4 linked regions of the Homo sapiens genome follow. The protein of the gene in region 2 interacts with the protein of the main gene of each other region in a pairwise test. Each region holds a gene or a part of one and is shown on either strand. Other genes may lie near its edges.

Evidence for each region.
Region 1: the proteins of SFT2D2 (region 2) and REEP2 interact in binary tests that used the Homo sapiens proteins (3 or more experiments, as listed by UniProt).
Region 3: the proteins of SFT2D2 (region 2) and TAS2R5 interact in binary tests that used the Homo sapiens proteins (3 or more experiments, as listed by UniProt).
Region 4: the proteins of SFT2D2 (region 2) and NDRG4 interact in binary tests that used the Homo sapiens proteins (3 or more experiments, as listed by UniProt).

What each region holds. Positions count from the first base shown.
Region 1 is NC_000005.10:138,442,035-138,447,474, forward strand, and holds the end of REEP2 (receptor expression-enhancing protein 2), read left to right. Parts: intron 1-2,380; coding exon 2,381-2,501; intron 2,502-2,719; coding exon 2,720-2,833; intron 2,834-3,193; coding exon 3,194-3,341; intron 3,342-3,433; coding exon 3,434-3,564; intron 3,565-3,648; coding exon 3,649-3,717; 3' UTR 3,718-4,931; downstream 4,932-5,440. UniProt on the Homo sapiens protein: Required for endoplasmic reticulum (ER) network formation, shaping and remodeling. May enhance the cell surface expression of odorant receptors.
Region 2 is NC_000001.11:168,221,928-168,229,020, reverse strand, and holds the start of SFT2D2 (vesicle transport protein SFT2B), read right to left. Parts: upstream 3,018-7,093; 5' UTR 2,942-3,017; coding exon 2,879-2,941; intron 1-2,878. UniProt on the Homo sapiens protein: May be involved in fusion of retrograde transport vesicles derived from an endocytic compartment with the Golgi complex.
Region 3 is NC_000007.14:141,786,356-141,791,869, reverse strand, and holds TAS2R5 (taste receptor type 2 member 5), read right to left. Parts: upstream 1,654-5,514; 5' UTR 1,509-1,653; coding exon 609-1,508; 3' UTR 503-608; downstream 1-502.
Region 4 is NC_000016.10:58,495,337-58,503,154, reverse strand, and holds the start of NDRG4 (protein NDRG4), read right to left. Parts: upstream 3,013-7,818; 5' UTR 2,907-3,012; coding exon 2,886-2,906; intron 2,168-2,885; coding exon of another isoform or gene 2,078-2,167; intron 1-2,077. UniProt on the Homo sapiens protein: Contributes to the maintenance of intracerebral BDNF levels within the normal range, which is necessary for the preservation of spatial learning and the resistance to neuronal cell death caused by ischemic stress.

The sequences.
Region 1 (5,440 bases), on a different chromosome or scaffold from region 2:
CTGCCTGCGACCTTAGGCAGGTCACAGCTCTCGAGGCCTCAGTTTCCTTATTTGTAAAATAGGCATATGATTCACTCCTATAAATGCTGGATACTTGCATTTCCAAGGCATTTTCCAGGCTGTACTAGACTACGTATGTATGAGCACTTTGAGGACAGGGAATATGTCTTAATCATCTGTATATTCACAGCAGGAACTCAAAAATGTTTACTGAATGATCAGATACCTCTTGGAAGAGGGGACTAATAACACAGTTCATCGGAACTCAAGAAGAGAATTTTACCAAGGGGGAGAGGACAAGAGATCATTACATTTATAGATAAGACCCTTGCATTTGAGAAAAATAGTTTTAGAAGAGGAAAGAGATGGAGAGATGGGTTAAAAATTGAGGGTAAAGGCCGGGTGTGGTGGCTCACGCCTGTAATCCCAGCACTTTGGGAGGCCAAGGCAGGCAGATCACGAGGTCAGGAGATCGAGACCATCCTGGCCAACACGGTGAAACCCCGTCTCTACTAAAAATACAAAAATTAGCTAGGCATGGCAGGGCGCAGTGGCTCACACCTGTAATCCCAGCACTTTGGGAGGCCGAGGTGGGCGGATCATGAAGTCAGGAGATGGAGAGCATCCTGTCCAATACGGTGAAACCCCATCTCTACTAAAAAACAAAACACAAAAAATTAGCCGGGCGTGGTGGCGGGTGTCTGTAGTCCCAGCTACTCTGGAGGCTGAGGCAGGAGAACGGTGTGAACCCAGGAGGCGGAGCTTGCAGTGAGTCGAGATCGAGCCACTGCACTCCAGTCTGGGCAACAGGGTGAGATTCTGTCTCAAAAAAAAAAAAAAAAATAGCTAGGTATTATGGCACCTACTTGTAATCCCAGCTACTTGGGAGGCTGAGACAGGAGAATCGCTTGAACCCAGGAGGCGGAGGTTGCCGTGAGCCGAGATCGTGCCACTGCACTCCAGCCTGGCAACAGAGCAAGACTCAGTCTCAAAAAAAAAAAAATTGAGGGTAAAGGCCGGGCATGGTGGCTCCTGCTTGTAATCCTGGCACTTTGGGAAGCCAAGGCAGGAGGATCACTTGAGCCTAGGAGTTTGAGATCAGCCTGGGCAACATAGCAAGACCTGCCTATTAAAAAAAAAATTGGCCAGGTGCGGTGGCTCATGCCCATAATCACAGCACTTTGGGAGGCCAAGGGGGGGCAGATCACCTGAGGTCAGGAGTTCGAGACCAGCCTGACCAACATGGTGAAACCCCTTATCTACTAAAAATACAAAATTAGCCGGGCGTGGTGGCACATGCCTGTAATCCCAACTACTCAGGAGGCTGAGGCAGAAGAATTGCTTGAACCCAGGAGGCAGAGGTTGCAGTGAGCCAAGATTGTGCCATTGCACTCCGGCCTGGGCAACAAGAACGAGACTCTGTCTCAAAAAAAAAAAAAAAAAAAAGATGAGAGTAGGGCAAGGGTGGTGAGGTGAAAAACAAAACTGAGGGTAGTAAATATAGATGCCTTTTTTTTCTTTTTCTGAGATAGAATCTCACTCTGTCATTCAGGTTGGAGTGCAGTGGTGTGATCTCGGCTCACTGCAGCCTCTACCTCCTGGGCTCAAGTGATCCTCCCACCTCAACCTCCTGAGTAGCTGGGACCACAGGCACACGCCACCACACCTGGCTTATTTTTTATTTTTTGTAGAGATGGGGTTTTGCTGTGTTGTCAGGCTGGTCTTGAACTCCTGGGCTCAGATGATCCTCCCACCTTGGCTCCCAAAGTGCTGGGAGATTACAGGCCACTGTGCCAGGCCTATACATGTGTCTTGACACAGCAAAAGAGAGAGCTTTGATGAAGACTTTGTGAGGACATAGGTGACCTGAAGGAGTTTGTGACCAGAGGAGAAGGCACTATGGGGACTGAAGGGCAATCCTGGAGAAGTGAGGGTCGTGTCACGGTGGGGCAGGAGGGTCCAGAGCAAGCTAGAGAAGTCCCAGGCCTCTCGATGATAGGGAGGGCAGAAAGGGAAGGAGTGAAGACCCAGGTGTAGGCCTGCACAGTCAAGAGTTTCCCTTGGTGTTGACCCTAGGGCAGAGGAAGGGGGGTTTTCTCTAGGAGTGAGAGGGCTGGGGCTTGGGGAGAGGATGAGGCCAGGAGAGTCGCTGCTGGGGGAAATTCCTTCTAGTGTCACTGCTTACCTTCCTGTTTGGAGCTTCAGCTGAGCCCTCCAGACCCTTTCAGATTAGAAAGGAGCAGTCCCATGAGCCCCATGGGGACCCCAGTGCACTAAGAGTGAGGGGCTGTGCAGGGTCACACATGGGGCCGGTGCTGCTGGACACAGGGCACCTCCCAACTCCCTGCCCTGTACTCTGCGCTTGCCCCTGTCCCAACAGGTTCCCCTTCTACTTTGAACTGAAGATCGCCTTCGTGATATGGCTGCTGTCCCCTTACACCAAGGGCTCCAGCGTGCTCTACCGCAAGTTCGTGCACCCAACGCTGTCCAACAAGGAGAAGGTTTGCCCCCACTCTCAGCTCACCTCCCAGCCTGCCCCCAGCCAAGGCAGTCCAGAGCCTGCAGCCTCATACAGACTGGCCCTCCCTGTGGGGCCCAGAGCCCAAAGTGACTTGGCAGGGCTGCCGTGGCCTCCCGGAGCAGGCAGGGGCCTCTGTCCAGGGGTGAACAAGGGTAGGGCAGGACCTCTCCTCTTCTCCCTTCCCCTCCAATCCCATAGGAGATCGACGAGTACATCACGCAGGCCCGAGACAAGAGCTATGAGACCATGATGAGGGTGGGCAAGAGGGGCCTGAACCTTGCCGCCAATGCTGCAGTCACAGCTGCCGCCAAGGTGAGATGGGGGCAGGCTCAGACTCCCAGGGCCCCTACCTTGTACAAAGGGCCCTGGCCAGGCCCCTTTGCATCCACCCTGTACTCGGGGCTGTAGAGACTCTGGGCTCATGCAGCTGGAGGCTCCAGTCCAGGCTCTACTGCTATCTGGCCGAGTCACTTTGATTGTCCGGCCATTTCCCCATCTGTCCCCAGAGGCAAAGTGTGGCCCTGCCCCAGCCCTCAGCTCTGTCTGTGTGGGACTGGGTGAGGACAGTGTGGGGAGGGCACCGAGCCTGGGGCTGCTGCCAGCACCATGGTGACCTCTATCTCCACCCCGCCCCTTCCCCCCGGCTCTCCCGGTGCGTGGTGGTGACCCTAGGGCCAGGGGGTGCTGTCAGAGAAGCTCCGCAGCTTCAGCATGCAGGACCTGACCCTGATCCGGGACGAGGACGCACTGCCCCTGCAGAGGCCTGACGGCCGCCTCCGACCCAGCCCTGGCAGCCTCCTGGACACCATCGAGGACTTAGGTACAGGCAGGGCCCGGGGTTGGGGTGGGGCCCCAAGGGCAAGGAGTCCAGATGGGAAAGATTCCCCCACCTCCTTTTCTCCCTGCACCCAGGAGATGACCCTGCCCTGAGTCTAAGGTCCAGCACAAACCCGGCAGATTCCCGGACAGAGGCTTCTGAGGATGACATGGGAGACAAAGCTCCCAAGAGGGCCAAACCCATCAAAAAAGCGCCCAAAGCTGAGGTGAGGGCACTGGCCAGAGCTTGGGGAAACAGGCAGGGGGTGGCGGCTCCAGGCTGAGCCCCATCTTCCTCCTTCTTTCCACAGCCACTGGCTTCCAAGACACTGAAGACCCGGCCCAAGAAGAAGACCTCTGGCGGGGGCGACTCAGCTTGAGCCCCTCCACCCCCGCAGGCTGCAGAGCAAGGATGAAGCCTCAGGAGGGGCCTCAGACCCAGCCCCTGCTCCACACTGTGCCAGTAGCCTAGGTGTCTCAGGCCCCTGGGCCCCGCAGATGGCCATTTCCGGTGCCTGCCCAGTGGCCACTCTTCTGGAAGGGGCTTGGAAAAGAGGAAGGAGGCCCAGCTGTGGGGGTTGAGGGTAGAGGGTGGACCAGAGGCTGAGGACTGAGCCACCCAAGGAGGTGGGGACTGCTCGGCCTCCACCGCTGTTCCGCTGCAGCCCCGCCCTGCCCCACCCACCCAGTGCCTTGCTGAAGCCCATAGCAATCCGCTTCTCAGAGGTCCTGTCGTGTTTCCACTGCTCGCCTTGGTTTGGGAGCAGGGAGGGGGAAGTCCTAGCCCAGATGGACCAAGGACGGGCCTGAAGGCACATGGGGGAAAGGGAGCACACGGGGAGGACGTTGGGGACCCTGGGTGGGGCCTCCAGGTGCAGCTGTGGATGGAAGACAGGGATTGGCCTGTGCTTCAGCGACCAGGATGGCCAGGCCAGAGCTGCAGCTGGGGGCTCTTTTCCTGGTCATTGGGTGGGGCTGAGTGCCACATGTTCCCACATTAAAAAGGGGGGTCCAGGGCTGTGTGAGTGTGTCTTTCTGGGTCTAGGGCTCGGGGTAGTTTGGGTCAAGGACTGTCCCTCCAGCAGTCGCCTCCTCCCACCCTGAGCCCCACAGTCATCTGGCCCTTTCCCTGCTCAACCCTCCATCCTAGGCTCTGAGCCTCAGAGGACCCAGCCCATGAGAGAACGGGGATCTGGGGGGCCTCTCACCTGCTCCTATGACCTTGCTCCCTTTTAGGTCACCCCATTGCCACCGTGCCCCTGGGCTGGACTCCCGTGCTCCTCAGGGCCCACCCCTGCTCTGTCTGGTACAGGCCCCTGCTGAGTGGGCCCCTCTCCTCTGCCCCTGGGGTCCATCCCCTCTTGCCCAGGGTCCCCATCCTGTACCAAGCAGACTGGGCCCTAAGACCCCTGGCAGAACCCAGCCTCTGCTCACACCCGCCCCAGCTTCTGCCACGGCTTCAGTCAGGGCCAGGAGGAACACGTGAAGGAGAAAGAGAAATGCAGGAGCCGCGGGGCTCCCGGTTCCTTGGGAAGAGGGTGCCCATTGGACCTTTGGCACTGGATGAGCCAATAAACCAAACTCTGGCACCTCATTTATTTTGGCCTCTGTGCTTTGTTCTTGCCACACCAGCTGACAGGTGGGAAGGACCTCAAGTGAGAAGCAGGGTTCAGCTGGGGGAGTGGGGAGGCCAGCCTGTGACTGACAGGAGCTCTGGTGCCCAGCTAAGAGATGGGCTTGAGGGGGCTCAGTCTGGGAAAATGGTTTTGGGACTCAAGATAAAACCAGAGGCCTAGGCTGGGCGCAGTGGCTCATGCCTGTAATCCCAGCACTTTGGGAGGCCGAGGCGGGCAGATCACGAGGTCAGGAGATCAAGACCATCCTGGCCAACATGGTGAAACCCCATCTCTACTAAAAATACAAAAATTAACCAGGCATGGTGGCGCGTGCCTGTAGTCCCAGCTACTTGGGAGGCTGAGGCAGGGGAATTGCTTGAACGTGGGAGGCAGAGATTGCAGTGAGCCAAGATCGTGCCACTGCACTCCAGCCTGGTGACAGAATAAGACTCCGTCTCAAACAAAACAAAAAACAAACAAAAACCAC
Region 2 (7,093 bases):
AAGTTCTTTTACATTCACACTTGGTCAGGGAAGGAGGAAGCTGTTGTTCCACTTCTCATAACTGGACTCAGTGAAAGCAAAACACTTCTTTTTGCCAAATTATGAAAACAAACTCATAAAATGTCTGTAAATTCATGACTGCTGGAAGCTGTGCTAGCATATTGTTTTTGGAAATTAGAGTAGCTAAAATGGTACCTGGATGGAATTTGTAGGCAATGCGCTCACAGGCAGTCTGACTGGCAGTTATTCACAAAGGTCCCTTTCACTCTGTGATGTGGAGAGAAGAGGGGCTCTTGCCAAGAATAATACTAAGAATTGTTCAGAAAAACAGGATTGGTAACCAGAAGAAGGTAAGAAAGAAATACTGCTTCATTTCCACACTTTAAAATTAGATACTATTCATACCTTTCTTGTCCCCAGAATCCTTTATAAAAAACATAAAACCTATACTTTCAGAAAGAAGTCCATTGAAACTAAAGACTTAAGGTGTATTTATGAAGATGAGGTATCAATCACAAAATTCAACGTGAGGCTATAATTAGATACTGCCATGCAAATTTTATAACTACCTAGGAGAGGTAGGAGAAATAGAACTAGTCACACCTTTATGGTTTGCATTAAAGGAATAAAGGTTTTAAAAAGCACTCTCTTCTAGTGACCTCTTAAAGAGATTTTAAGAGCGCCTAATTCAACTTACCACACAAAATAGCAATTTCCCCACAGAATCCTCCAGTTCTACCAGCCCCCAAACCATGAAAAATATGAGACAATCAAATCAGTACCAATATTTTAAAGGAGGCTCTGACCTAATCAGTAAACACTAAGCTGAAACAGCCTGCAAGATGAAGTTAGTCGGCAACAAAACATTTCCTAGGAATTCAAGACTCTGGAAGTGCCATACAATGATGTTATAAACAGAAATCTCACTCAGAAAGAGGAAACTGACCAACTGACCAAAGTATTTTAAAACAAGAACGAAGCACCTATTCTTTTTAAATTAGATCCAACAGATGCCTCAGCATAACACATTAAAGCCCTTCTCACAGTATCCAACACAGACGTTCACCATTTTAGGTTAAAAACAAGCTCAGCATTTATGTTTGCAAACTTTACTAGTCGTCCACTGTTGAGGGTCAGCCCACTGCTTCGTGATGATTTTCGAGACAATAATATCTGCATCATCCCACTGTCAACACTCCACCCCTCAAGAGTCTGCAGGGAGAGAAAGTGTCTGCCTCTTAAGCACCAATTGTTCATAAAGGCTTGTTGACAGTCTATGGAAATAAAGCTTTAAATAACGAGGGTCAGCTACCTATGAGTCAGACCTTTCTTAGGCCCGGTCTGAGGTTCCACTTGAGATTCATAATAGAGGCTAGAAATCAAGAAAAAAAAACCCGTGAAATTACTCTGAGCCTTGACCAATTAATAAAGGCAACAAATTAAAAAGAACCCACCAACTTGTTTTGAAATATCAAAAAGTTAAATTTCAGTGACTCCAACATTCGATCCCATAGAATTACTCCCTCAAGGTGAAGATTCAGAGAGCAATCTTACATTCGGAGATGTCATGCTAAGTCCCAGTATCACACAAAACAAAACCGAATAAAATCAGCAACCACAAACGTGGGTGAAAGCAGCTTGCTGAGAAAGAAGAACTTGCTGAGAAACCAGAAGAAACACTGATTAGTTTCCAGTTGGCCATATCATCTTAACATCCTCATTTCACAGATGGGGAACGGAGGCTAAAGAATACACCAAAAAGCGAAGAGAAACGTTATTTTGTCATCCAAAAAGGAAAACAAAAGCTAAAAGCACCCTAAATAGAAATGCAGCATTCTGTGTGGTTCTACAACATAGGACATTAGTGGCCAGGTTTCAGCACGATCAAAACTTTTCTAATAGGCCGGGCGCGGTGGCTCATGCCTGTAATCCCAGCACTTTGGGAGGCAGAGGTGGGCGGATCACTTGAGGTCAGGAGTTCGAGACCAGCCCGGCCAAGATGGTGAAACCTCGTCTCTAGTAAAAATACAAAAATTAGCCGGGTTTGATGGCGGGTGTCTGTAATCCCAGCTACTTGGGAGGCTGAGGTGGGAGAATCGCTTGAACCCAGGAGGCAGAGGCTGCAGTGAGCCAAGATCGCGCCACTGCACTCCAGCCTGGGCGACAGAGTGAGACTCTGTCTCAGAAAAAAAGAAAAAAAAGCTTTTCTAATAAAACAAACCAACACGCAGGCAGTCTCCTGAGGCGCTGGGTGTCTAGAGACTAGTTGTGGGCAGTGTGGACAGAGACACAAGATGTGGTCCCTGTCCTCATGGGATGGGGGCAGTTTCTCACCCCCAATCACAAGGCAATGTGTACAGGGGCGGGTGGGAGTGTCACACCCTACAACCTAAACCGGACAGAAAACCAAGGCAGAGCTCGGGGCGCGGCCACCAGCCCCGTCGCGAGGTAGGGACCGCCACCCCAACACCCCAGTCCGGGTCTGGGGCCCCGACCCACCCAGCAAAGGCTCCTTCCGCCTGGACCTCGGGGCCCCCAGCCCTACCCGGCCCTAAAGCGCATTCCCCGGCCGGTGGGGCCGGGGCCGACAGCCCAGTCGCCCACCCTCCCACTCGCAGCTCAGTCCGGGGATTTCCTCCTGCGCCGCCCCCTTGTCAGGGAGGATGGGCTGAAGGGGCGCGGGGCAGAAAAGGACGCCGCGGCCACTGCCCCGTGTAGTGCCAGACCTCTTCGCGGAGCCCTGCAGAAGAAGAGGAGGAGAAGGGGCAGAGCTACCGTCCAGAAACTCCAGGGAGTCCCCGCAGGCTTCCCAGGCCCGGGCAGGGGACGCAGGGCGGGAGCGCGGCGAGAGGGGGCCGACGGCCCCGGGCTCACTCACCTCGGACAGGCCGCTCCGGTCCTCCGTGTCCTGCCCGCTCAGCACCTTCTTCAGCTTGTCCATTGCGGCCCAGTCCCCACCAGCTCCAGCTCCTCAGCGGCAGCCTGTTGCGCTCGCTAAGTTGACGGCTCTTCCGGGTGCTAGGCAGCCGCCCAGCCGCCCAGGCGCCAACCGCGGCGCGCCCCGCCCAGGCACCTGCCCACCGGGGGGCTCCCGGCATGCCCCGCGCGCCCGCGCTCGCCTCCGCTTGTTTTGGTCCCGGGGGGCGCGGCGGGCCGGAGGGGCTGGGATTGAAGACCACCAGGCGCTGCCAAACACTAATTCGGCGTCCAGAGCAGTTTCAAACCGGAACGGGCCGCGCTCCCTCGCCCTACTTGATCCAGTCAACGAATGCCGAGCACCTACCACGTGCAAGGCTCCGGAGACACAAAGACGGGGGAGAAGCCTTGTGCAGACGGGAACAAAGGCTGTGGTTCATCCATATTGCGATCGTGCCTACACAGGAAAAGATTTTCTTTTTAATCACTCAAGGCCTTAGTCTGGTGTGGTGGGGCGTGCCTGGAAGCCCAGCTACTCCGGAGGCTGAGGCAGGAGGCTCACTTGAGCCAAGGAGTTCCAGGCTGTAATGAGCTATGACCAGGATACTGCACTCCAGCATGGGCAACAGAGCGAGACTCTGTCTCAAAAAAAAAAAAAAAAAAAGTGACTGAAGGAATGTTGAAAGGAATAATAGATTGTTAAATTGTTTTGTGTTTGTACAATTGTTTTTTTTTCTGACCTTAAAAAAACTAAAAGTAGACTGGGCATGGTGGCTCATGTCTGTATTCCCAGCACTTTGGGAAGATGGCTTGAGCCCGGGAGTTCCAGACCAGCCTGGGCAACATAGGGAGACCTCATCTCTTCAAAACATTCTTAAAAATTAGCCAGGCATGCTGGCGGGCATCTGTAATCCAAGCTACTTGCGAGGCTGAGGAGGAAGAATGGCTTGGACTCAGGAGGTCAAGGCTGCAGTAAGCCATGATTGTCAGTACAGTAAGCCACTGCACTCTAGCTTGGGCAACAGAGTGGAAACAATACAAATGGCCACCAACTGATTAATGGTAAATAAAATGTGACATACCCATGCAATAAAAAAGAATGGAGTACTGACACATGCTACAACGTGGATGAACCTCGAAAACATTGTATTAAGTGAAAGAAGTGTGGAGCCCGAAAATTTGAGACAGGTCTCAGTTAACCAGGAAGTTTATTTTGCCAAGGTTGAGGAACAGCACCTGTGACACAGACTCAGGAAGTCCTGACGACATGTGCCCAAGGTCGTTGGGGCATAGCTTGGTGTTATACATTTTAGGGAGACATGAGGCATCCGTCAATATGTGTAAGAAGTACATTGGTTGTGTTTGGAAAGGCGGGACAACTCGAAGCAAAGGCAGGAAGACTCAAGGGGGGAGGGGGCTTCCAAGTCACAGATAGGTGAGAGACAAATGGTTGCACTCCTTTGAGTTTTTGATTAGCCTTTCCAAAGGAGGCAATCAGATGTGCATTTATCTCAGTGAACACAGTGATAACTTTGAATAGAATGAGAGGCAGATTTGTTCTAAGCAGTTCCCAGCTTGAATTTTCCCTTTAGTAATTTGGGGGGGCCCAAGATATTTCCCTTTCACAGAAGCTAGACACAATAGACCATATATTGTATGATTTCATTTATAGGAAATGTCCAGAATAGGCAAACCCATAGAAACAGAAAGTAGACTAATGGTTGCCTAGGGATGGAGGAGGGGAAATGGTAGTAAGAGACTAATGGGGTGATTTAAATGTTCTGGAATTAGATTGTGGTAATGGTTGCATGCACAGCTCTGAACATACTAAAAACCATTGAATTGTATGCTTTGAATTAACTGTATGGCATATGAATTCTATTGCAATAAAGCCATTTCAAAAATGCTTAGAACAGTGCTCAGTATATATTTCACAATCCATTAATATTATCTATTGTAAAATGTAACAGGCATCCACTCTTATCTTTCTCCAATGTGTCTGAGTCTGAACCCAGAATATGGGCTCCTGATTTACCTACATTTATATTTGCACATTGTGCAATTGGCCCATTACAAGGTGATTCATTGTAGCATTGTTTGTAATAGAAAAAAATTGGAAACAACTTAAAAGTTCATAAATGAGGGAAGTGCTTAAATAAATTATGGTACATTCATTCACAAGAATACTAAGTAGTCATTAAACACAGAAGAATGAGGAAGGTTTAATCAATGTCTTCAGAAGGTTTTTTCTGACTGTGCCACACCATCCCTTGAAGGATCTTTGTAAACATAAGTCTGACTCATTTGTTGCCCTGCTTAACATCTCCCACAGTGTGGTAAACTGAAAAATGTTCCCCAAAAGATACCCATGTCCTAATCTCTGGAAAGTGTACATGTTACCTTAGACAGTGAAAAGTGGAGTGGGGGTGGTATTTTGTGCAGGTAATTAAGGATCTTAAAATAGATTATGCACAATTATCCAGGTGAGCCATAAATGCAATCATGTATATCCTTATAAGAGGGAAGCAGAGGGAGATTTGACACCAACAGAAGAGGAGAAGGCACTGTGACCACAGAGGCAGAGATGGGAGTGATGCAGCCACAAGCCAAGGAATGCCAGTAGCCACTAGAAGCTGGAAGAGGCAAGGAAAGGATTCTCCCCTAGAGCCTCCAGAGGGAGCATAGTCCTGCCAATAGCTTGTTTTCAGCATTTCTGGCCTCCAGAACTGTGAGAGAATCCATTTCTGTTGCCACCAAATTTCTGATATGTAACAGCAGCTGCAGGAAACTAATGCCCATGTTCCCTACCACCTACAGATAAATTGCTGCTGACTTCTCAGCAACACATACCTTCCTCTTTGGGTTCATCTCTCTCCTTTCTCTCACATACTCCAGGCTCCAGGCATAGGAGACTGTAGTTCCTGAACTCATTGTGTTCCCTACCTTGTCCTGGAAAACACCTACTCTTTTCCATCCTTGTCCCTTTCCCTTCCCCTAACACACAGTTCTCTCAAGTCACCTTATTCTTACCTCCACCATAACACTTAGCACAATATGCTCCATTTGTTCACATTAGGGTCCCTATGGGGCATAGATCTTATTTGTCTTTCCATCCCCAGTGCCAAGCACAGTGCCTGGAACGTATAGTAGGTGCTAAATAAATAGTAACCTACTCTAGTCATTGGCCAGGCGCGGTGGCTCATGCCTGTAATCCCAGCAGTTTGGGAGGCTGAGGCAGGTGGATCAGGAGGTCAGGAGTTTGAGACCAGCCTGTCCAACATGGTGAAACCCTGTCTCTACTAAAAATACAAAAAAATTAGCCGGGCATGGTGGCAGTCGCCTATAATCCCAGATACTCTGGAGGCTGAGGCAGGAGAATCACTTGAACCTGGGAGGCAGAGTTGCAGTGAGCCGAGATCGCCCCATTGCCCTCCAGCCTGGGCAACAAGAGCGAAACTCCGTCTCAAATAAATGAATAAATAAATAACCTACTCTAGTCACTGGTCACATTCTCATTCCCCACTGTGCAATGCAGATGCAAACAAGTCCTCAAGGCTGAGTGATGTACTCCCTCACAGCCTTTCTGTACCTCTGTTTTGCCAGGATGAACAAACAGGAAGCTTTAGATGAAATTTTATGTGCGCTCTATTAAATTTCACCCTCCTCTCAGCAAAAGCTAAACACAAAAAAAGTTCTTACAAAGTCTCTTAGAAGTGTGTGTGCAAGGAAGCTCTAAGGAGTTAGCTTCCAAGGAATAGGAAGTAAGGCAGTTCTCTGAGCATTATTAATGCATGAAATTAACACAGAATTCATCAGGGTGGACATATTCCTACTTGGTTATTAAGAAAAAGCCCTTAGAAAATCATGATTGAATACCTTAATGTATCTAGAATAGGAAAAGGAGAAGGAAAGGAAGGCCATTCCTCAAACTGGTTAATCCTAGGGGCTAGGAAAAGGAGACTCCTAAGGCAGTGTTGGCAAAGCCCATTTAAGCACAGCACAGGTCAGACATAGTTCTGGTGTCTGAGTCCCACATGAAGCAGGTTTATCCTTATCACAATTGTAAGAGCCTAGGCCACCATGCAAATCCTGAACTTTCTTCCTTTTTTTTTTTTTTTGAGATGGAGTCTCATTCTGTCACCCAGGCTGGAGTGCAGTGGCACGATCTCGGCTCACT
Region 3 (5,514 bases), on a different chromosome or scaffold from region 2:
ATTACAGGCGTGAGCCTGATTTTTATTCTGAAAGCCAAGGCTAGGGCTCAAAGAAACTTCCAGAAATATAAAGATGTTTTGTTTTGTTTTTCAGTTAGATAATTAGATACATTACAGCAGAGAAATGGGGAAATTATTTGATACTTTTTAAAAAGCATATCTAAAATGACTAACATTAATGTATAGGTAAAATTTCATAAAAATTAATGATCACTATAATTGTTCCTAATCTCTGTTTTCTATACTAGGAAAAACACAATTTATATATGAATTTTTGCTATATGTAGACAGAATTGTTCCTAATCTCTGCTTTTTATAATAGGAAAAACACGATTTATATATGAATTATTTGCTATATGTAGAGAGAATATAATACCTCTTTTACCAAACATGAAGCCCTAGCCTTGATTTCTGTGGTACATTAAAAAAATATACTTTGCATTGCCAAAAGAGACATAGTATTGGGTTTTGATCCGTATTTTCTGTTGCTCATTCATTACATTGGTGTAAAAGAAGGAAAATCTTAAAAGACATGGAAAGCAGCTCCCTTATAGAGAGCTATCAAAAGAGCGTCCCAAGAGTGTCCTGACCACACTTTTCTTCCCAGATCATGGGCCCCAGCATCTCCGAGCACACACTGTCTTCCACAGGATCTTCTGACAAGTCTGCTTCACCCTAGGAATCCCCATGATCAATATGAGAGAATGAAGAGAAGGATAGGCTGCCATGAGTGTCTCCCAGATGAAGACACTGGTGAGATCAGGAGGATAAGTCTTGGAGGTGATGGAGAAGGGGCTGGCCATGATATAAACCAGGTGAAGTAAGAGGAAGCAGCCCAAGGACTTCAGCGCAGTGATGTGAGCCTTGGCCCGGACATCCCTCCTACCAGCTGAATGGACCTTCATCTTCTTGTGGTGTGTATACAAAGAGACAATCAGCATCCCAGAGGAAACAAGAAACACCACTAAAGGCAAATAACTTCCTGAATTGAGCTGAAATGCATACAGGTACTGCCAGCTTTCAAAGGGATACCGAATGCTGCTGTTTCCTTGGGGAGGATGATAGAATGTTAAGCCAATTTGGACTGTAAGTAACAAATTGATTATAAAGTAGCCCAGAAGGCACCAGAGACTCAGGTTATAGGCCCTCTGCTTCAGCCACAAGTAGGCCGGGCGATCGAAGGTCGTGATCTTCTTGCAATAGAAGACACTGAGGAAGGTGGCAAACCATAAGCTGGCCTGGCTTACCAGGACCCAGAAGATACTAAGATAGCGAAGCCAACGGCTGCTCTGGAAAAGTGGAAACAAGCTTAAGTCCAAAATGATCAGCCACTGCAGGAGAAATCGGCAGCCAGCCAGGCCCAGGATAATGAGGTTATATGAGGACCAGTTGAATTTTCTGATCCATTCTCTAAAACTCCAGACCACCAGGCTTCCATTTCCAATTAAACCGATGAGAAATTCAACCACTGCCACCAGCATCAGCAGTCCTAGGCCAGCGCTCAGCATGGCTGGGGAGAGGAGGCTCTCACTGCTCCTGGCTGAGGTCAGATCCCCTGGTAGTGATAACACACCAGGGTAAATTTTCACACCACAAAATCTGGATTTGGCCTCGTCCTTCCGTAATCTGTCTTCAAGCGAGACTGAACAGCTGTGATGAGGAACAGAGAGGTTGGAAGTTATGATACCATCTGTATTTGCATCTACATGAATGAACCCTGAGTGTAGAACCAGAGATTGCAAACAGTACCACAGACACCGGCTCTCCATCTCAAAGGTTTTGGGCCAAAGTCTAGACACCAGGGTATAACGTAACAAGGCCCCTCAACAAGAAAGACCAAATCAAAACATGCTCAGGTGCTATACAGTGCCAGTTATGAGCTCATATGCTATATAAAAAAAGAAATTTTATTTTCATGAAAAGAACACTGGGCCAGGCATGGTGGCTCACACCTGTAATCCCAACACTTTGAGAGGCCAAGGCGGGTGGATCACCTGAAGCCAGGAGTTCGAGACCACCCTGGCCAACATGGTGAAGCCCCATCTCTACTAAAAATACAAAAATTATCTGGGCGTGGTGGTGGCTGCCTGTAGTCCCAGCTACTCGGGAGGCTGAGGCAGGAGAACCACTTGAACCCAGGAGATGGAAGCTGCAGTGGGCCAAGATCGCGCCACTGCACTCCAGCCTGGGCGACAGAGCAAGACTCCATCTCAAAAAAAAAAAGTAAGCATGCTGAGAACTCTCTACGAAGCTGTAGGCAGGCAGGCCACTGCCCGTCTCTGGGCCTCAGTTGCTCTATTAATAACTGAATGGATTGTAGGATGAGATTTCCATTCCTTCGGACTAAATTTACAAAGTGCTTATTTTGTGTCAAACTACGGTGTACTAGGCACAGGGGACGGCGCCATTATAATACACAGTCCCTGCCTCCAGGTAGCATCCATTGTACATCATCTCCACCAAGCTGCAAGGCCTGGTACTCTAAAACTCTGGCTGTAGGCTATGGAGGGGCAGAGGTGGTCGCGATCTTCTACTGGACTAAAAATCTAGATGAGGCTTGAACTCGTCCAAAAACAGTGTTTCTTCAGTGACTTTCTGATAGAGACATAGTGCCTCTCTCTCCCCACCTGCCCCAATCTAGCCTGGCAGTGGAATTTGCCACCGATCCTGGTAGCCAACTGACACGTTTCCAGAAAGCTAGTCTGGCATCAAAAAAACCAAAGTATCCAGAAATATAAAGGTAGGTTTTTGACTACTTTACTACCGGTGTTGAGAGGCTAAACTACATAGAAAATTGAGATAATAATTTAGCTAATTCCCCTAAGAAAAGTGCTTGCCTAAAAAATATACAGGCTCACCTCTTTTTAAAATATATTATTTTCAAACTATAGCTATTTTCTACTTCCTTTTATCAAAAACATAGCATATTGGCAAAGAAAACTTGATTATCTGCAGTAATTTTTAAAAATGTGATACTTCCCATGCAAAATATGAAAACTCGGTTTTGACTTCTGTAGTTTATTAAAATGATGTGATTTGCATTGCTTAGAGAGCAATAAGCTCCAGTTTCTAGCCTGTTTTTCATGTTACCCTTTCATTTTGTTTCAAAATCAAAGAAGAAATGAGGAGAATTGAGAATAAAAATTTCATTTTTCTAAAATCTACAGTTATTTTTACTGTTGTCAGTGATACAGTTAAGGGCCTGATTAGATCCTTCTTCCAAGTCATGGCCTCTAGGATTTCCATGTACATATCATCTCCTACAGAATTCTCTGACAAGTCTGATTCCTCATAACCATTACAATAGACGGAAATGAAGTATAAACAGCCATGAGTGTTGCAGAGATGGCAAGAATGGTGAGATCAGAGGGAGATTAGAAGGTCATGGAAAAGTGTCTGGCCAAGGCAGAAACCATGTAAAGGGGGAAGTTCAGAGCGATGAGCACCTTGGTTTGAGCCTCCTCCTGACAGCTGTGTGGTCCTCCATCTTCCTGTGATGTCTTTACAAAAAGACAAGTGGAACAGAAACATCACAAATAGCAATCAGTCTCCTTCACTGGACAGCAATCTATAAAAATAACAGATTTAAAATGGGATGCAGGATGTTGCTGTTTCCTGTTAAGGGTTTTTAAAGGGTCCAGCCAACAAGAGCTGAGAAATAAAAAGTGATCTTGAAAGACACTAGCAAAAAACAAAAACCCAGTCTTTTCAGCTACAAGAAGTCAGCGGGACAAAGGTCATGATCTCCATGCAGCAGAAGCCACTGAAGAAAGTGGCAAACTACATGTTGGCCTGGCTTACCAGGACTCGAAGACATTAAGATAGTAAAGCCAACCACTGCTCTGGGAAAGTGGAAACAGACTTATGTCCAACATGATCGGCCTGAGTAGGAGAAAGTGGCTACTTACCAGAATCATGAGAATTTATAGGGACTCCTTACATTTTTTTGACCCATCCTCTAAAACTGCAGACCACAGGGACTCCATTTCCAACCAGGCCAATGAGAAATTCAGCCCCTGCAATGGGCATCAGCAATCCTAGGGCAGCCGCCAACATGGCTGGGGAGGGGAGGGTCTCTCTGCTGAATCAGGAGGTGCCCTGCTTCAGTGCTGATGAACACGTACTGCTGCTGGCTGTGTCAGAATCCCTGGGGACGGTATCAGTATTATGGCAGAGCATTTCACTTCTCACCACTCAGTTTTGTTACTGTCTGAAATCCCTTCTCTGGTAAAGATGTTACAGCTGTGACCAGAAGAAACGTTCTTGAAGGTAACGGTCCCACCGTCACTTACATCTACCTGACACTGGCCTGGGATCTGACATTAGGTACAGAGACACAATTACAGAATGGCCTTCCGAAGGAAAGAACTAAAATCCAGACAGCCTAGAGCACAGTCTCCTGAAATCCTACTTCCACCCGACCTAACTCCACAAAACCTAAGTAAGACAGTCTGAGAATTTAACAGTGGCAAATGCAAGGTACCTCATGTTATAAAAAGGGAAAGCATGGGCCGGGCGCGGTGGCTCACGCCTATAATCCCAGCACTTCGGGAGGCCGAGGCGGGTGGATCACTTGAGGTTAGAAATTCGAGACCAGCCTGGCCAACATGGTGAAACCCCATCTCTACTGAAAATACAAAAATTAGCCGGGCATGGTGGCACACACCTGTAGTCCCAGCTACTCAGGAGGCTGAGGCAGGAGAATCACTTGAACCCGAGAGGTGGAGATTGCAGTGAGCCGAGATCATGCCATTGCACTCTAGTCTGGGCAACAGAGAGAGACTCCGTCTCAAAAAAAAAAAAAAAAAAAAAAAAAGGGAAAGCATGACATTTATCAATTATTTAACCAATATTTATTAATGACTACTATGTGCCAGTCCACTGTTCCAAGCTCTTGGGATACAATGGAAAGAAACAAAGTTGCTGCTCTCATGCAGCTTATGTTCTGGTGGGTGAGGCAAATAATTAATGGTTTCAATATGTTTGAAATTTGAATATATAAACATGAGAGCCATATTTACACCTATGCAAAGGCTTACTGCAATGACAATGAAAACAAAGGGAAGGATAGGGTGAGCAAACAAGCAAAAACAAGGAGAAGACAGGATAAATATCAACTGCTGAATAATAAATTCTAGGAGAGGTGAGGCAGGAGAGAAATCTGTGAACCACGGCTGCTACTTCATCTCCACACAGAACTGTTCAGCCTATCGGCATCCACACCAAGAGCTGCAATGAAGGGGTGTATGTGGAGAGTAACAGCCTCAGTGCCATCCTCTTTACCAGAGTAACACTATGGTTTTTAATTTTGACACAACCAAAATGTGTCTGCCATAATACTACCATAATTCTTTCTACCAAAGTCTCTTGCATTCATGCTCCTATTCCCCACTGTTCTGAGCCCTCAGCTACTTTAGCAGTACCTGAACCAAGAAAAGAAAGCTGATGAAACATCAAGCGGGATGCAAGCATCCAAAGAGACGCTCATAGGGGCAAGTTATGGCTTTACACTCA
Region 4 (7,818 bases), on a different chromosome or scaffold from region 2:
CTCTTGAGTTCACACCTTTGGTTTTGCTGCTCAAGGTCATTACTTCCTCAGGAAGACCTGGTTCTACCCCTTACTTGTGACTGAGCATGTCATGTTACTTCTCTGCTGTGCCTCAGCCTCTCCATCCAGAACCACCTCACAGGGACTTTGCGGGAACTAGACAAGCCAATGTTTGTGGAGCATTTAGCACTTGGAGAAAGCCCCAGAAAGGGGGCTGTTATGCTAGGGCATCCCTGAGCCTTGGGAGAATGCCCTTCTCGCTGTTCCTTTGCAAACTGGGCATTCTTAGCCACTCGGATGGGCAAACTTCAAGAGGGGCCATCTGAGCTAAATAAACCGATCCTCTCTGCATCATTGTGAGCCCTGGGAACCACGTGAGTGGCCCAGTGAGTTGGAGGTGGGGCTGGGGTCAAGGACATGAAAGAAACATCAAGCGACTGAGCACCTACTGTGTGCCAGGCTTCCTGCATGTTACCCAAGAGACAGGAACCCTAGTCCCTGTTTTGCAGGTGAGGACACTTTGGTTTAGAAAGAACCTGAGTTCCTGCCTCCAAATGGGAAAGGAGATTTAGACAGCAGAAGACAGCTGCTCAGGGGCCAGCATTAGTGGGTCTGGTCTCAGAGGACCACTGTCCAGGCCTGTGTCTCCAGTGTGGAGTGACAAGCTGGCACCAACCTGGTGGCCAAAGGCTCTACCCTGGAGAACACTCTTTGACTTGCAGGCCCTTTTTATTTCCCTGTTGTCCTCCAGGAGAGCCCAGGTAATGAGCCTTAGGGTGAGCCATGCGGCTGATTGCACCACCCAGGGGATGAGGAGGCCACACCAGGGCTGAGAGGGGACAGACCACACAGCCCCTCCCATCCCAGGCCTATCCTTTCTCGGGGCCCATCAAATCCAGGAACACTTCCCCGCCACTGACCACTGACCCACAGTTTTCTCATTTACTTCCCACATAGGCCCAAGCCATAGAGGAGGAAATTGAGGCTAGGAAAGGGAAATGACTTGCCCAAGGTCAATCCCAGAGTAGGGAGGGCAGGCCCTGCCAGGTGCCAGTCTCAGGGGCCAGGGCGGTGCACTGAAGGCTGCATGTTCACAGGAGATCAGGTTCCACCCGAGGGAGCTCCTGACCAGGCAGCCCTTTCACAGCCACCTGTGAGTTCTCTCAGCTCTGGAGGGTGGGGCTGCAAAAGAACTGCAATGCGCCTCCTGCTGCATAAAGGACAGTTATCCTCCTGGGGTCAGACGTCGAGAGCCCAGGGCGGTGCCTTCCAAACCCAGACCCGCAGCGTGCGGGTCCGCCTGAGGGGTGTGAGGGGTGTCTGCTCTCTGCTGCTGAGGAGGCCCCACTGTCTTCTCCCAGCCCTGGTGTGGCCGCCCCTGTCCCCATCCCCCTGAGGTGACGTGATCAGGCTCTACTAGGGCTCATCTCCCAGGATGGGAAGGGCTGGGGCTGGGCCTGGGCGTCACCGGGCTACCTGTCCTACGAAGTCCAGTGACCTTCGCTGAACCCTGCTGCGAACCTCCCTAACGCCTTCTCTCACCCTCTGCGGAGAGCTCAGGACTCAGTTCAGCCTGATCGAAGCCAAACATCCCCGTCCCTTGGAGCGCTGCGCAAGGGCAGCCCCACAAGGGCCACAGCGCGGTGCACTCTGAGGCCCCCAACCCTCAGGGCCGAGCACTCCCATTGGCTCTGGGTGACGTCAGAGCCGGCCCCGCCTCCAGGTAGGCGCAGGCGGGAAGCACTGCGGCAGCAGGGGAGGGGGCTGTGGCGGCTCCTCTCGGTCGGTCCGTCTCCCCTCGCCTGTGACCTTGAGCACTGGAGGGGAGTGGGGCTTTGAGCCGGGCTTTGCGCCGGTGTGGGAGTTGGTGCTGGTGGTGCTGTGGTTCGGCCTGTCAGCCGCATCAATAATTCAGGGGACAGGGTCTGCATGGGCGGGCAGGTGCTGACGTCGTCACCTCCGTGCGTGCGGGGTGACCTATCGTCTGCGGAACCGGCAGGGCAGGCGTGTGGGGCCCGGGGGTGGGGGTGAGTCTGCCCCTGCCTCTCCCTCCTGAGGAAGAATGGGGCCGGGGTACCTGATGCCCCGGCGAGAGGAGGTGCCCTGGGCTCCACCTGGGGTCCCCTAGCCCTGCCAGCTTCACGGCTCCAGCGTTGCCTTCCCCCACCTACAAAATAAGGCAGGCAGGCAACCCCTCCTCGTTCCTCCCCAGCAGGGACCCCTGCCTGAAAGGCTGTCATTCCTGTGTGGCCCAGACCTCCTTGCCTCTGCCCGGCTGGCGCAGCAGAGCCCTGGGAACTGTGAGGTGGCTCCTAAGGAAGAGGCCGCCTGTCCTTCCCATCACACTGGCGCAGCCATCCAAACAAGCTAGACGGCCGCCCACTGGGACGGCAGCCCCTGCACGCACAGACCCGGCACGCACACTGGGCACACAGCCTCGGGGGCTCACCAAGGACACCCCCGCCCCCTGGCCTGATGGCCCCAGGCATCACCAAGGCAGACACCATCCAAGCGCACACCAGAGGGCACACGGTCAGAGGGACATGCAGGCACTAGCGCCCGGGTCCACACGGGCAATGCAGCCAAGTCAGACAGTGCCTTCCACGTTCCATTTCCTGCAGATATGTCACCCACCCCCCAACCACACGCTCCCCCCAGCCCCTGCTATGGGCTCTGACTAGCAGCTGCCCCCAGCCACTCCTGCAAACAGGATCACCAGGGAACCTGGAGCACTCTGGCCGTGTCTCAGTGACCCCAGGGTGAGGCTATTTGAAGGCCGGGCTGCCACCAGATGTGGGTTGAGGGGGGCACTTCCTCCCTGCGGTGGGTCATAAGGATGCACCATCCTCCCGGCCCACCTTGATGCCCGCAGCGCCCTCACTCACCCCATCCCAGCACTCCGGCATCTTGCCGAGGGAGGGAACCCGCCTCTACCAGGAAGGACAAACAAAGGCCTGAGTCACTCGGGTCCAGAGGGCGGGGGCAGCTCGAGTGGGAGATGGTCGGCTCTGTGATGGGGCACAGCTCCTGGGCCATTTATACAGGGATCCTGGCCCAGCCTAGCTAGCCCCTCCTCCCCGCAGGGTTTCTGAGCAGCCACTCGCTTACCAGGAGCCCCAGCTCCCATATTGGCTGCTGGGAGACAAGCCTGGCTCCAATTGGCTTCTGAAGTCCTCCTTGCCCCAGCCCTGTCACTGCTCCTCCCACCCCAGCCACACATCATCCTTGATGGTCCCCAGCCCCTGCATCCGCCCCCAGCACATAGGCACACGCCAACAGCTGCAGCTCACACGGGATCCTCCGAATACAAAAGCCGAGACCACACGTACAGACTCACCCATGTCAGGTACACACAGGGTCGTCACAGACATGCACAGCTTACCAATGCGGGGCAGGGCAGGGTGCATGGGCACTGCCCAGACAGCTAGAGCCCTTGACCCACACCTTGGGGAGTATGGAGGGCCCGAGAGGGCCCCAAGCCCAACATCTTGGGGACCAGACCCCCACGCCCAGCCTTCCCATTAGGAAGGTTCCATCGCTTAACCTTGTGGAGGCCTGGGGAGCTGCTGCTTTCTGGGGCAACTTGGGTTATCACCCTGCTTCAAGGGGCTGCTCCTTCTCCACCCACCAGGGATGAAAATCCCACCTTGCCCACGCAGATACAGGGGGTTTCCCCACATGCTGAAAATGGAGTTTGGGGGCCGGGGGCCAGGGGCCCTGGGCAGATAGCAGGGCCAGGGGTATGGTCAGGCACACACCAGCTCTGCCCTCCCCACCCTCACCCTGCTGCCAGGGGCTCCAGACCACCAGGGAGAGGAAGCGGGGCTAGGAGGCAGCTTGCTGACATTGACATGCCCACCTCCTGTAGACCCACCCGGCCCTCGTTCCCAGAGGCAACCAGTTTGGGGCTTGGCTCTCGGGTCTCTGGGGAGCAGAACACTAGGTCTATCTCAGGCTCCGTGCCCTGTTCTCCTGGGCAGCAAGGATCTGGGTGGCGAGCTCGCCCGAGGCCTGCAGGTGGAGTGAGCAGAGGAGAAGAAAGGCCAAGAAGTGCACAGGAGGAGAGGAAATAGGCCAGAGAGGGAAGCAGAGGAGGGGGCCCAAGGCTGGGAGAGCAGGAGCCACAGAGAGAAGGGGGCTGCTGCGTGCCTATGCTCCCAAATCCATGAAGATTATATGTATTATCGTTGCAACTGCCTGTGCAGTAGGCACTGCTGTTTCTCCCATTTATATATGGAGGCTCAGAGAGGTTGACTGACTTGCCCAAGGTCACACAGCAAAGAAGTGGCAGACCTATGAGTGGGATCAGGGTTTGGCTGGCAAGACCTGACCCTGCCTTGTCTGGCCACGATAACTGCACAACTGCCAGAAAAGGGGCCAACAGTTTGGAGAGGCACACAGACTGCCCCATTTCTCTCCTGCCAGGGCCTGGGCAAGGGTGGGGTCAGGGCACAGAGCCTGAGATAGCCCTAGTGTCCTGCTCCCCAGATACCCGAGAGCCAAGCCCCAAACTGGTTGCCTCCAGGAACAAGGGCCGGGTGGGTCTACAGGAGGTGGGCATGTCAACGTCAGTAGCTGCCTCCTATCCGGCTTCCTCTCCCTGTCTTGCTGAAGAAGGAACACGCCACTCACCCCAGCCCATGCTGATGGCCCTGCATGCTGACTGGCTGCCCTTGGAGAAAGTGGTCATCTCTTCATCTCTGGGTACCTGCTGACCTGGTCGACACCTGCTATGTACACTATTGCTGGTCATGTCCTCTGCCTGGGGGCACCTATTCCATCTCTCACCTCTTACTCTGGAGGCCTAGGGAAGACTGACAGGCCCTGTGCTCCCCAGGGCAGCAGGAAGTAGAATGGGGAGTCCCCCTGGCCCGTCACCTCCTGGCCATGCTCCCCATTCCTGCAGGCACTGTGGCACAGGAAGAGGCTTGGAAAACTGAGGCACAGCCCTGCCCTCTGCCCACAATGCCCTCCCATGTCCCCCAAGGCCCCACCCAATCCTACGCCCACTCCAACCTCTGACCCCTGAGTGGCCTCTCCCCACCTTTGGACCCAGGTGACAAGCTGACCTGCGACACTGCCCACTCCAAGCCACAGCCTCCATGACTGCTCAGCTGTCTGCAAACCCACAGACGTGGGTTTAAGTCCTTCCTGGCCCCCTACCAGCCGGGTGACCTTGGGCAAGATTTTTTTTTTAACCTCTCTGTGTCTCAGGCTTCTAATTGTAAAGCAGGGACTGTGTGCCTTTCTCACCAAGCTGCTGTGAGAATCAGAAAAAACTGCAGAAATCACTCTAGATCTGACCCCACCCCTGCCCAGGTCCTGGCAGGGGAGAAATGAGGCAGCCTGTGTGCCTCTCCAAATTGTTGGCCCTTTTTCTGGTGGTTGTGCAGTTACAGTGGCCAGACAAGGCAGGCTCAGGTCTTGCCAGCCAAACCCAGGTCTTGCCAGCCAAACCCTGGTGCCACTCATAGCTCTGCCACTTCTTTGCTGTGTGACCTTGGGGAAGTCAATCAACCTCTCTGAGCCTCCGTATGTAAATGGGAGAAACAGCAGTGCCTACTGCACAGGCAGCTGCAAGGATAATACATATAATCCTCATGGACCTATGAGAAGGGATGAGGAAACTGAGAGTTGGAGAGGTTAGGTAATTTCCTCACTTGGCTAGTAAGCAGCGGCAGCTACTAGTACCCCAGCACTCTGGGTGGGCCTGAGGTCTCAGAATCAAGAGTGGCAAACACTATGTTCAAATGTCCTCCATGTGCCAGGCTTTCTTGGAGTGCTTTACCCATTCTCTCTATCCCTCTTTTTTTTTCTTCTTCTTCTTTTTTTGGAGACATGGTCTTGCTCTGTTGCCCAGGCTGGAGTGCAATGGTGCAATCTCTGCTCACTGCAACCTCCGCCTCCCGGGTTCAAGCCATTCTCCTGCCTCAGCCTCCCAAGTAGCTGGGACTACCAGCGCCTGCCACCACACCTGGCTAATTATTGTATTTTTAGTAGAGATGGGGTTTCACTATATTGGCAAGGCTGGCCTCAAACTCCTGACCTCAAGTGATGCACCTGCCTCAGCCTCCGAAAGTGCTGAGATTACAGGTATGAGTCACCACACCCAGCCTTTATCCTCTTTTTGGAAAATATTTTTAAGTATGGAAGGCTTCACGAATATGTGGGTCATTCTTGTACAGGGGTCGTGCTCATCTTCTCTGTATCATTCCAATTTTGGTATATGTGCTGCTGGGGCGAGCACTCATTTTCTCTCTTAATACCCTCTTTACAAATGAGGCAAATAAAGCACAGGGAGGTTTGGTAACCTGCCTAACATCACACAGCTAGTGGGCACAGAGCCAGGAACCACACCCAGGCAGTTTGGTGCTAACTCCACACTCTGGTGGCCACTCGTCACGGTCAGCTGAGTGTCCATATGAGGGGCCCATGGGCACCATCGCCTTAGAAACACTCGGGAGGTCCGTGCTGCCTGTCTCCCTGAAAATGCGGTAGACAAATGGAGTGACTTGGGCTGGAGGTCACATGCTTGGAAGTGGCGGGGCCAGAACCTAGGTCTGTCTGGCTCATGTTAGTCCCTCTGCTATACTACCTCCCCCACTGGCTGCCCCCACGGAGGCAGGGGACAGTGACAACGCCTGCCATAGTGAGCAGGAGATAAAATCCCTGCCAGGTCTTGGCCCAGATAACGACCATCCATTCTTGTGGCTGCTTTTCTAAAACAAAAAACGAAAAAAATGCTGCCTCCATGTGGTGTGACAGGAGTGGACAGGAAGGTGCCTTTTAATGCAACCTGCCTTTTACCAAGCAGAGGATCCTGAGAACCGGGGTCCCACACACCCTGGGCCCCGCAACTCCGGGGCTGCAGCTCAGAGGGCTCAGGGGCCAGAGGCAGCTTCGCAGCAGCAGTTGGGAACCCAGAGGTATGGTAGGGTCTCCTCCACGACTCCAGGATTCCCCTCTGCCTGTCCCCCACACCGTGGGCCTGTGTGCTGGGGCTGGCATCAGCACTGTTGGCGTCGGCCTCCCACACTGTGGGACCAGTGTGTTGAGGCACCGGCTGGCTGCTCTGAGATTTTACTTGGCCAACCCCCTCCTCCAGGGCCCATTTGCCTGCATAGCTCATCCTCATTTGCAGCATGGAGGACAAAGAAAATCCCCTGGTGAGCCTGCCCTGATCTCCGGCTGTCCCTTCCCACCAGCCTGGGCCAGCTCCCGACCACTTCCCTCCCATCCCACCTCCTGGGCTCCCATTCACTCCCCACTGCCGGAACCCTAGCCTCTCCTTCCAGCTCCAGAGCCCTTTGTGCTTGGAGATGGCATTCCCGGAGGATCTGAGCACATGTACATTGGCTGCCCTGAAGTCTCCCCTCTCGTCCTTGAAGTGGCGCGTGACCGAGGGACCAGCACACAGGCCCAGATTCTCACACTGATCCTCGCGTTGCTCCCACTGGGGGACGAGCCAAAGGGCAGCCCCGCCTCCGTGTCACCCCTGCATCCAGACCACTTGGCTGGTGCTGTCACGGGGCTTGGAGGCTGACCCAAAACCAGGTCAGGCCCAGGCAAGGACAGAGACTCGGGAGCTGCTTCCACCTTACCAGGAGGAAGGGTCTGAATTGGTTCAGCATGTCGGGATGGCCAGTGGGGCCCCAGAACCCAGCAGGGTTCCCTTGTGTCTGCTGTCAGGCATTTTCCCAGACCCGGAAATCAATGGTCACTGTGGGACTCAGAGGGGAGAAACGACTGGCCGAGTGAGCAACATCATCACCCGGAGGAATAAAAACAAAGGGCGCTTTCAGTTTCCACGGAGAACCT